2 separate regions of the Homo sapiens genome follow, and region 1 is linked to region 2. The links come from fine-mapping of genetic effects on gene expression. A gene starts in region 2. The other region holds a variant in brackets. All regions are shown on one strand. Distances are between the middles of the regions. Region 1 holds the start of LOC100288123 (a long non-coding RNA gene). Region 2 holds the start of REXO1 (RNA exonuclease 1 homolog).

The links. PIP is the estimated chance that this variant, and not a neighbour inherited with it, causes the effect.
Region 1: its variant is fine-mapped to the expression of REXO1 in whole blood (TOPMed, PIP above 0.99).

What each region holds. Positions count from the first base shown.
Region 1 is chr19:1,820,902-1,826,261 of GRCh38, reverse strand. It overlaps REXO1 (RNA exonuclease 1 homolog), which reads left to right. Exons shown (of 16, transcript NM_020695.4): 3 at 319-423; 4 at 2,477-2,690; 5 at 4,580-4,743. It overlaps LOC100288123 (a long non-coding RNA gene), which reads right to left and starts at 4,173. Exons shown (of 4, transcript NR_152847.1): 1 at 3,570-4,173; 2 at 3,005-3,247; 3 at 2,546-2,639; 4 at 1,717-2,153. The variant G/A (reference allele first, on the strand shown) is at 2,501.
Region 2 is chr19:1,845,361-1,850,720 of GRCh38, reverse strand. It overlaps REXO1 (RNA exonuclease 1 homolog), which reads left to right and starts at 2,238. Exons shown (of 16, transcript NM_020695.4): 1 at 2,238-2,519. The coding sequence starts at 2,363. RefSeq lists enhancers at 1,771-1,850, 1,871-2,020 and a silencer at 2,041-2,510.

The DNA.
Region 1 (5,360 bases), 24 kb after region 2:
CAGCCCGCAGCAGCTGGTTCGGCCCAAGGTGGCCTCGCTTTCCCAGTGTGCTTTCATTCTGCAGCCCTGGGGTCTCCAAGCTGGGGCCCTGGGTGCCCAGGAGAGGTAGCCTTGGGCATCTGCAGAACGTGTGACACCTGCCCACCCCTCCGACTGCACCCACACAAAGCCCAGGGACTGTTGGCCCTGAGCCCTCAGCTGCTGTGCCTGGGGGCTGGACTGTTCCATTCCCCACTTGCCGGGGGCAGTTTGAGGTTGGGGTGTGTTGGTGTTGGCAGCGAGGGCAGACCTGTGCTGACGGACGGACATGTGTCTTAGCCCCCCAAGGAAGAGAAGAGTGAGGAGAAGGGGCTTTCGGGTCTGACCACTCTGTTCCCCGGGCAGAAGAGGAGGATCTCCCACCTTTCCAAGCAAGGCCAGGAGGTAAGGTCCGCAGAGGCCAGGCCAGCAGGAGCCTTTTTTTTTTTTTTTTTTAAAGACGAGGTTGGCCTGGTTTGGTGGCTCACGCCTGTAATCCCAGCACTTTGGGAGGCCAAGGCGGGTGGATCACCTGAGGCCAGGAGTTCGAGACCAGCCTGGCCAGCATGGCAAAACCCCATCTGTACTAAAAATACAAAAATTAGCTGGGCATGGTGATGGGTGCCTGTAATACCAGCTACTAGAGAGGCTGAGGCAGGAGAATCGCTTGAACTCAGGAGGCAGAGGTTACAGTGAGCCAAGATTGCACCACTGCACTCCAGCCTGGGTGATAGAGCAAGACTCTGTCTCAAAAAAAAAAAATTATAAAAAAAGGGGGTCTTGCTTTGTCACCCAGGCTGGTCTTCCAACTCCTGACCTCAAGTGATCCTCCTGCCTCGGCTTCCCAGCGTTGGGATTACAGGCGTGAGCCACTGCTCCCAGCTTCATCCCTCTGTTTTCTGTTTGTTTGTTTTTTGGTTGTTTTTTTTTTTTTTTTTTTTTTTGAGACGGAGTCTCGCTCTGTTACCCAGGCTGGAGTGCAGTGGCACGATCTCTGCTCACTGCAACTTCCGCCTCCCGGGCTTAAGTGATTTTCCTGCTTCAGCCTCCCGAGTACCTGGGATTACAGGTGCCCACCACCACACCAGGCTAATTTTTGTATCTTTAGTAGAGACGGGGTTTCACCATGTTGGCCAGACTGGTCTCGTGATCTGCCTACCTCGGCCTCCCAAAATGCTGGGATTACAAGCATGAGGCACTGCGCCCAGAGGTGGGCAGATCACGAGGTCAGGAGTTCGAGACCAGCCTGGCCAACATGGTGAAACCCCGTCTCTACTAAAGATACAAAATATTAGCTGGGCGCGGTGGCACGCACCTGTAATCCCAGCTACTCGGGAGGCTGAGGCAGGAGAATTGCTTGAACCCGGGAGGTGGAGGATTCAATGAGCCAAGATCGTGCCATTGCGCTCCAGCCTGGGCGACAAGGCAAGACTCTGTCTCAAAAAGATAAATACATAAAATGAGTTATCCATTCATAAACTTCTGATTTCTTTGGGACATTGTTCCTGTAAATCTGTGACGCTTTTTGTAAAGCATCAGTGATTTCCCCATTCGTTCTTCCACCCAAGTTTTACCATAAATTTGATGCTTAACATTTGCTTCAATTTTAGCAGAACTCCTGTTGCTCTGACTGGGGCTCTGTTCTAACTGATGTCTTACTTTTTTTTAGTGCCTCAAACTCCGTCTGGTTCAGACATGTTATGACAAGTTAGTATCAGTTTATTTTGGGGCAAAAAAACTTGAAAGCCATGCAAGTTTCGTCACAACGCACGTTTTCCATGAGCTTTTTGAAGACACCTTATCTTTGACGCTGCCCGAGTTCCAGAGGGAGCTGGCCCTGCCCCTTCCTGTTAGATTGCCACGGTGCTGGGGCGAGGGACAGAGCAGGTCAGCAGCCCCAGGGTGACCTCCCCCAGAGTGCGGCAGACGGCCTGCTGCGCCGTGTGCGGCCTGGGCCTGGGCCGGTTGTCCAGCTCTGAGCTCCAGTGTCCTCTGTAGCCCGGAGACAGTAGCGCTTGTCAGGCCCCTGTGCAGACGTGGCGAGGTAGTGCAGGACAAGCAGAGAGCCTGGCTCCGGGGTCAGCAGCCAGGAGAGTCCCAGTTGCTCCAGTCCCAGAGCCTCCCCAGAGGAGGGGCTTTGAGGAAGATTAGGCGTAGTGGGATTGGATTGGAGTGCCAGTGTAATCGGGGTAGTCCCGCCCACCCGTGCCTTATCAGGGCTGAGGACATAGCCTGGGCACCGGGAGACACTGGGAGTGGGGGAGCCTGGAGCCACATGGCATTGAGGACCACTGCCCCCTGCTGCTTCCCCCCAGTGTGCCCAGCAGCTCAGAAGGCAGCCAGGGAGGTGGTGCCTCCGGCCCCCGAGCTCCAGCCACCCTCTCCCAAGCCTGCCCGGGGTCGCCTGCTCCAGGTGCCCCCGCTGTGCTGCCAGGCCTTAGCATTTGTGGTGACGCAGGTGGAGCCCCCGAGGAGGGGTCCC[G/A]CGGTGCCCCCGGCCCGGCCCCCGACGGCGCAGGAGGTGTGCTACCTGCGGGCCCAGCAGGCGCAGAGGGCATCGGCGAGCTTGCTGCAGGCCCCCGCCAGGCTGGCAGAGAAGTCGCCCTCCGTCCACATTTCCGCCCCTGGCGAGAAGAGGAGGATCGCCCACATCCCCAACCCCCGCCTGGCTGCAGGTGAGTCCTGGCCCAGGGGGCCTGTGCCGGGGGGCCGTGGGCATGTGGGCAGGAGAGGTGGCACCCTGAGGTCTCTGAGCTCACCTGAACCACATGGTGCTTGCTCATGGGATGACTTTGGGCCCCCTCCCTGGGGCCCTCAGCCTGCCTGTCTGTGAAATGGGGACTGTTGAGGGGTGCAGGAGGCCTGGCCCAGCACCTTCCTTCCCTGACCCAGCTCCGGGGTTACTAGGAGTCCAACAGCCTGCTGGGGACTGGGCTGAACCAGGGCCTGAGCCTGTGGTTCCAGGGAATGGGGAGCCATGTCGGGGTACCTGGCATTGGGTGGGGAGCAGGCTTCTGCAGGTGTGGCTTTCTCCTGGCGTGTGAGTGGGGGGCGTGGCCTCTGATGGAAATGAGTGCTGTCTTCCCAGGAGTGGGGCTGTATTTCCTTTACTCCGAGGGGCACTTCCCCCCCAGCAGGGTCTTGTAGAAAGTCGGGCCAGGCCTCAGTGGTGGGTGGACAGGACCCTTCACGGGGGGTTGTCCTGTCTCCTGCGTCTTCACATCAGTGGTGTCTGTAGAGCGAGAAAGTATCCCTGGAGGCAGGTCACAGATGAGGGTCCCCCAGAAAGCTCCTAAAAAATGCAGGTTCTGGTCTGGAGGCTGGGAAAGGTCTGTGTGTCTGGCAAGCTCCCTGGGAGGGCATGGCTGCTGTCCGAGGACCACCCTGAGCAGCCTGCTGGTTTGGAGCCCCTGCCTCCCTGGCGCTGGCTGGAGAGCCTTAGGGCCAGCCCCGGCGATTCCCCTGCAGATCCCATGGATCCCACGGCCCTCCTTAGGGAGAGCTCTCCAGGCTACTCTGACCTCCCCTCCCCAGAGCCCCCTCACGGCTGAGACCTTAGCCCCAGGGAGGGGAAATCATTGAGTTGGGCCTATCCCAGGACCCCACACGCTTCCCGTCTGTGTCTCCGCGCTCGGGTTGTCCTGTTGCTGATCTGTGGTGGGTGCTGAGCTGTCGCAGTGCCCTTGGGGCCCGCCGCCTGAAGGGAGTCTGGCGTCCCAAGTGCTGGCAGTGCCGCAGGGCGGGCTCATCTGGCTTGGAGGACTCCTGTGGCTGCCTGGGCTCGCCCCCAGCGTGCAGCCGAGGGAGTCTGGAGGTTCTCTGTCCGTTCCTGAAGAGCAAACCCTCCACTGCAAGAGGCGCGTGCCAGCCTGGCGGGCAGCCTGCTTCCTTGCTGGGCGGCCCGCGGTAGCATGAGCAGACTCATCCTGCCTCCCTTGCACCTTCCAGGGCCAGATGGCATTTCGAGGGATGTTGCTCTGAGACTAGGGCCAGATGTCCCTGCTCACAGCTCCCCTTCCTGGGTCGGTGCCGAGCCCCCAGTCCAGAAGCCCCCCTGCCACACAGACGTACATGCCCAGGTTGCAGCTGCCCGCGTGGCCAGCCCTCCGAAGCAGCCCCTGCAGGCCTGGCCTCCTCCCTCTGGTTTGTGACTTCATCAAAGGGCAAGGCAGAACACAGAGGCCGCAGGGCAGGGCAAAGCCAATGAGCAGGTGGGGGCACCCGAGACCCTTCGGTCCTCTGTCCGGGAGCCAGGGCCTTTCCCTCAGACATCGACGCCTTGGGCTTGGGGTCAGAACACGTGGCAGAGGCCTGGACCACCCCACCGGTGACGTGTCCTCAGCGGCCTCCGCAGCCTGACCTGTGTCCTCTGCCTCGATGGACTTGCCTGAAGGCAGCTAGAGCCTGATGCCATTGCGCAGCCCCAGCCCCTCACCCTGGCCCGGCCCCCTGCACGCGGAGATGCACGTGCTGCTGGCGCTGAGCGGCCGCGGCTGCCTGGTGCTCCGCCACGTGGTGATGGGCAGCCACTCGCCCTGTGCCCACACCCCCTGTGCCCCGCCAGCCCCCACAGGTGCCAAGAGGACCCTTGCGGCCAGCGGCAGCCAGTCCTCCAACGGCCCTGAGCCAGGTGGCCAGCAGCTGAAAACACGCACATTGTCGGGGATGGCGTCCAAGACTACCACCACCATCATCCCTAAGCGAATCGCCCACAGTCCATCCTTACAGGTAGCCCCTCCCATCTCGGCCAGGACCACCACCCCCAAGACCACGCCCTGAGGCCCGGCCACATGGGACCTGCGGAGGGCCAGCCTCGCCCCTGCCCTGCGGGCCTTCGTGCTCCACACCGCAGTACAGCCTTCACCTTCCCTCCCCATGCCTTGGTGTTTTTTTTTTTTTTTTGAGATGGAGTCTCGCTCTGTCGCCCAGGCTGGAGTGCAGTGGCACGATCTTGGCTCACTGCAAGCTCTGCTTCCTGGGTTCACGCCATTCTCTGGCCTCAGCCTCCTGAGTAGCTGGGACTACAGGCGCCCGCCACCACGCCTGGCTGTTTTTGTATTTTTAGTAGAAACGGGGTTTCACCATGTTAGCCAGGATGGTCTCGATCTTCTGACCTCGTGATCCACCCGCCTCGGCCTCCCAAAGTGCTGGGATTACAGGCGTGAGCCACCATGCCCGACCGCCCTGGCGGTGTTTTTTTGTTTTGTCTTGTTTTGTTTTTTTGGTTGGTTGGTGTTTTTTTTTTTTGTTTAGAGACAGGGTCTCTGTTGCCCAGGCTAGAGTGCAGGGGCGCAATCATGGCTCACTGCAACCTCGACCTCCTGGGCTCAAGTGATCCTTCCACC
Region 2 (5,360 bases):
GAGACACTGTCTCACTCTGTCACCCAGGCTGGAGTGCAGTGGTGCAATCTTGGCTCACTGCAACCTCCGCCTCCCAGGTTCAAGGGATTCTCCTGCCTCAGCCTCCCGAGTAGCTGGGATTACAGGCATGGGCCACCACACCCAGCTAATTTTTGTAATTTTAGTAGAGATGGGGTTTCACCATGTTAGTCAGGCTGGTCTCGAACTCCTGACCTCAAGTGATCTGCCTGCCTCAGCCTCCCAAAGTGCTGGGATTACAGGCGAGAGGCACCATGCCTGGCCCCTAATTTTCTGTAAAACCGCACAAATCCCGCCTTCCCCATAGAATCACCCAGACCAGCCCTGTGCCCAGTCCAGGCTCTTCTCCTGTTTCTGTTCTCAAAGCACTTTCCACCTGGCTTCAGGCTGTCTCACTTATTGCTGTGTTCATTGTCGGCCTCCCTGCCTACACCATCACCTCCACCAGAGTGGGGTTCTCTGCTCTGCTTATGGATGTTTCTAGCATTTTGTGGCACACAGTAGGTGCTCAGTAACTATTTGCTGAATGAATGACCGACACCAGCCGGCACGGATGGAGCAATCGCATAAATGAGAGTTCATCTCTCACGCATCATCAGGAGCCATGACAGGGAGTCTACGCCTCCACTGCCCATGATAGGACAGCTTTGAGATTAGATCAGGTCCTCTGCAGAGTCGCCCATGACCCATCCCAACCCACGTCCCCTCATCATTGCATCCTGTCATTTATTTATAATTGTGGTAAAATCACATGCACATAACATAAAATTTGTCATCTTAACCATTGTATTGTTATTTGAGACGGACTGTCACTCTGTCACCCAGGCTGGAGTGCAGTGGTGCAATCTTGGCTCACTGCAACCTCCGCTTCCCAGGTTCAAGTGATTCTCCTGCTTCAGCCTCCCAAGTAGTTGGGACTACAGGCGCCCGCCACCACGCCCAGCTAATTTTTGTATTTTTAATAGAGGTGGGGTTTCGCCATCTTGGCCAGGCTGGTCTCAAACTCCTGACCTCGGTTGATCTTCCCTCCTCGGCCTCCCAAAGAGCTGGGATTACAGGCGTGAGCCATCGCGCCCAGCTAATTTTTGTATTTTTAGTAGGACAGGGTTTTGCCATATTGGCCAAGCTGGTCTTGAAATCCTGGGCTCAAGTGATCCACCCGCCTCAGCCTCCCAGAGTGTTGGGATTACAGACATGAGCCACTGTGCCCGACCTAAGACTTTGCTTTCTATTCTTTTTGGGTGTATACCCAGGAATAGAGTTGCTCATAGGGTAATTCTGTTTAACTTTTTCCATCTCTACACAAAATACAAAAAATTAGCCAGGCATGATGGTGCACACCTGTGGTTTTAGCTACTCGGGAGGCTGAGGTGGGAGAATCACCTGAGCCAGGGAAGTCGAGGCTGCAGTGAGCCGTGATCGCACCACTGCTCTCCAGCCTGGGTGACAGAGCAAGACCCTGTCTCTTAAAAACAAACTTTTTGGGTTTTTTGTTTTACATAGCAGTGGCACTATTTTACAATCCCACCAAAATGCACCAGGTTAAACTTCCCATTAAGACGTGGGCCTACTCCACCAGACTACAGAGTTGCCCCATCCCAGCCTTGTTCCTCGTTTGTCTGTTAAAATGCACCCTCTAGCTGGTATACAGTAGGCGCTCAATATTTGTTGAACAAATGAGTGAACGTGGACCTGGTCATTAGACTGATGACAAGAGTCGAGGTTGGGGAGATTAAGGCGTTTCTTGAGAGCCAGCTGTATACCAGGGCGAGGGGATTTTTAAAGACTGTGAACGGAGTAATTCAACCATGAGTTTCACCTGGCCCAGGTTTAAGGCCACCTCCCCGCAGAACTCTCCTCGTCCAGCAGAGGGCGCCTTAAGGTGATATGCTAACGAAAGGAAATAATATGCAAATGAGTAATAGCGGGCCCCGCGGGGCTTTTTTGGTCAGGCGCGCCGTGGACAGCCCTGGCGCCGCAGGGGCCTGGGGCTCAAGATGGCGCCGCTACAGCCGCCGAAGGTCGGGCGGCGGCGCTGGCGAGGCTCCCGGAGACCGCAGGCAGGGCAGCCCCTGCCCTCCTTACTTCCTCCCGCGGCCGTCTGTCCCGGCCCAGGGGTCCGTCACCAGCCTTGGTCGCGCAGGAGCAGGCGTTTCTGAGCAGGCGCGCTGCGGGCAGCCCCTCCCGGGGTCCCTTGCGGCGGCGTCCCGAGGGCCTCCGGGGGCCTCGGAGCAAGATGGCGGCGGCGGGGTCCGTGAGGCGCGGGCGGCGGCGACCGCGGCGCCAGTGAGGGGGCCCTGGGGCCCGGGCGGCTCCGGGCCGGGGCCCCGCCGCGGGACGGACCATGCTACGCTCCACTGGCTTCTTCCGGGCCATTGACTGCCCCTATTGGTCTGGGGCGCCCGGGGGGCCCTGCCGGCGGCCCTACTGCCACTTCCGGCACCGCGGGGCCCGGGGCTCCGGCGCGCCCGGTGACGGCGGAGAGGCGCCCCCCGCAGCAGGTAATGCCCGCCCGCCTGCTTGCCTTGGGCTCGGCTCCCCTGCCCGGGTCTGGACCCCACCCCGGTCCCGCCCGGGGTCCCCGTTCTCGGCCCAGCCTCCTCCCCACACGTTCGCGGGCGACGGTTTTCCCAGTCGGGACCGGAACCACCCACCCTGGGACCCGGTGCAAAGCACTAGATGTCCCTAAGCCTTCGTCTTCACGAGTGTGAAATGTCAACTAGGAGGACGCGTCCTGCCAGGGCTGTCTAGAGGGCGGAGTGCGAGCGCATGTTGAGTACCGGGCACCGGGCCTGACACAAGGGGGCTCGGGAGACGGGCGCGGCCGGCGCTAGGCAGGTCCTGGACTCCTCCTGCCCCTGATTGGCGCCCGCCGCTTCCCGGACCCCATGTGCTTGTGGCCGCCCTTGTTTATTTCCATGACGTTTCCTCCGGCCGCGCCTCTGGCAGCGGCCACCTCAGTCTCCAGTCGTTGAGTTAGGATGGTCCGAGGATCGTCTCTTGTGTTTGTCGAGCCCTGTGTCCAGCATGACTGGCAGGGAGGAAGTCAAAGCTTACTCGAGTGGGCTCCGAGGAATTCCATGCTTTTGGTCGGGCAGAGGACGTTGGTGGACTCCACCTCACAGCGTCATGGTGGTTTTCATCGTCATGGCAGCGTTTCTTGGAGGAGATGTGGGATTTGGATTGGAGAAAAAGAGGGACATCGCAAGGAAAGTCGTGGAGGGAGGGTTATCGAGTGTGATGTCATTCAGACTCCCCTGTTACCTCTGTCCCTTGATAGTGGCTCTCTGCTTCACCCAGCCCCTGACTTCCTTCGTCCCAGATTTCCTCATTGGGCGTGAGTTTCAAGCACTGTTTTTACTTTAACCATGAAACAGTCTCAGCTCAGAACCTTTTCCTGCAAAAGAGAAACATCTTCTCTAGGATTTAAGAATAGGTTTATTTTCCTGTTTTGCCAGAAAAGGTAGCATTTTTTTCTGATTTCCCTGATAAGTGTGCTTGGGACACCTGCACCTGTGGGCGGTTGTTTGCAGGTGGACAGATGCAAGCAATCACTTGTCAGCTCCCCACAGCCCAGCGTCTTCGCTGTGTTTGAGGCGGGGGATTCAGAGCTGCGTACGATGCCGGCTGTGCTCTCAGGGACCTGCCGACAGCTGTGCCTACAGATCCCGTAGCATAGGTCGTGATGTCCTGGGAGCACGCAGCCGGCTTTGGCGGGGGCTGGGAGTTGGTGAAGAAGGCAACGCGTGGGAGAGGCTTCTCGGAGGCTGTGACACCAGACTCACGATGCTCATTTTAACCCTATTTTTAGAGACAGGGTCTCACTCTATAGTCCAGGCTGGAGTGCAGTGGTGCGATCACAGCTCTTTGAGGCCTCGACCTCCTGGGCTCAAGGGATCCTCCTGCCTGAACCTCCTGAGTAGCTGGGACTATGGGCGGCGGGTGCCACCAAGCCTGGCTAACTTTGTATGTTTTCGTGGAGATAGGGTCTCGCTATGTTGTCCAGGCTTGTCTCAAAACTCCTGGCCTCGAGCCGACCTCCTGCTTCGGCCTCCCAAAGTGCTGGGGTTACAGGTGTGAGCTACTGCACCCGGCGCAAGTCAGGCTTATGATATCTGTCTGCATCCCAAATGGCTCATTTGTTTCCCAAAGGCTTATTTTTGAGGGTCCCTTTGGTGATGTCGTCTTCCTGTCTGCCCCCCGTTCCTATGGGAAAAAGGCAGCTGCCTGCCTCTTACCATGGCGTGTCTGCATTTCCCTTTTGCTGGTGAGAATGAACTCCTTTTCCCATCTCTGGTGGGGTGGTAGGGCTTCTTGTTACTGTCTGGTAGAAGACTGCCTCCCCCCGCAGAAGGCAGGATCCATCTTCCTTGCGGTGAGGTTTCTCTGACCCTCTGTTTCCGCCTCCGTGACATGTTCATCAGGCTGCCCTCTGAGGACAGGGGGGGATGCATGTCCCATGTCCACACCTCCAGATTTACACACACCCAGTTTCCTATGAGATTTGAAGAGGCTGGCGTGATCTAGCCTTTGCCATGTCTTCTCAAGGGGATTTTAGGGTGCACAGGGCAGCGGCCTCCAGAGAGGAGATAGACAGGAACGCTGGCCTCCCAGGATTGAGAGTGGACAGAGGTTCAGGTGAAAAGCCCTCAGCTAGCCCTGGAGCACCTGTGGGGCCATGCTCTGTGCTGGACACGCGCTGCATGGTGACCCTGTGAGCTATTTGCTGCCGGTGGGGAAACGGAGGCTTATCGAGGAACGTGTTTTGCCCATACTACCACCTGGCCAGGGCAGGGCTGGAGCCTCCAGGGCCTCTGGGAGAAGGAGAGGGCATCTGATGAGGGCACCAAGGCAGGCAGGGTTGGGAGGCTTGGCGGAGCTGCGACGGGAACAGGAAGGTGGCTGGTGCTCCTGGGCCCTGGGTCACAGGCTCAGCGGGTCATTGGCGACCTTGAGCAGCACTGCTGAAGGACTCAGGTTTCCTTCTGGGCTCTTATCCCTGGACCTGCTCAGCCATTTTATTTAATGAATTAATTTTTGAGACAGGGTCTCACTTTATCACCCAGGCTGGAGTGCAGTGGTGCGATCACAGCTTACTGCAGCCTCGACCTCCTGGACTCAAGGGATCCACCTGGCTCAGCCTCCTGACTAGCTGAGACCACAGGCATGTGACATCACACCTCGCTAATGTTTAAAATTTTTGCCGAGACGGGGTCTCACTTTGTTGCCCATGCTGGTCTTGAGCTCCTGGACTCAAGCGATCCTCTCTCCTCAGCCTCCTGAAGTGCTGGGATGACAGGCGTGAAGCACCGCGCTGGGCTGCACAGCCATTTCAGAGCCGG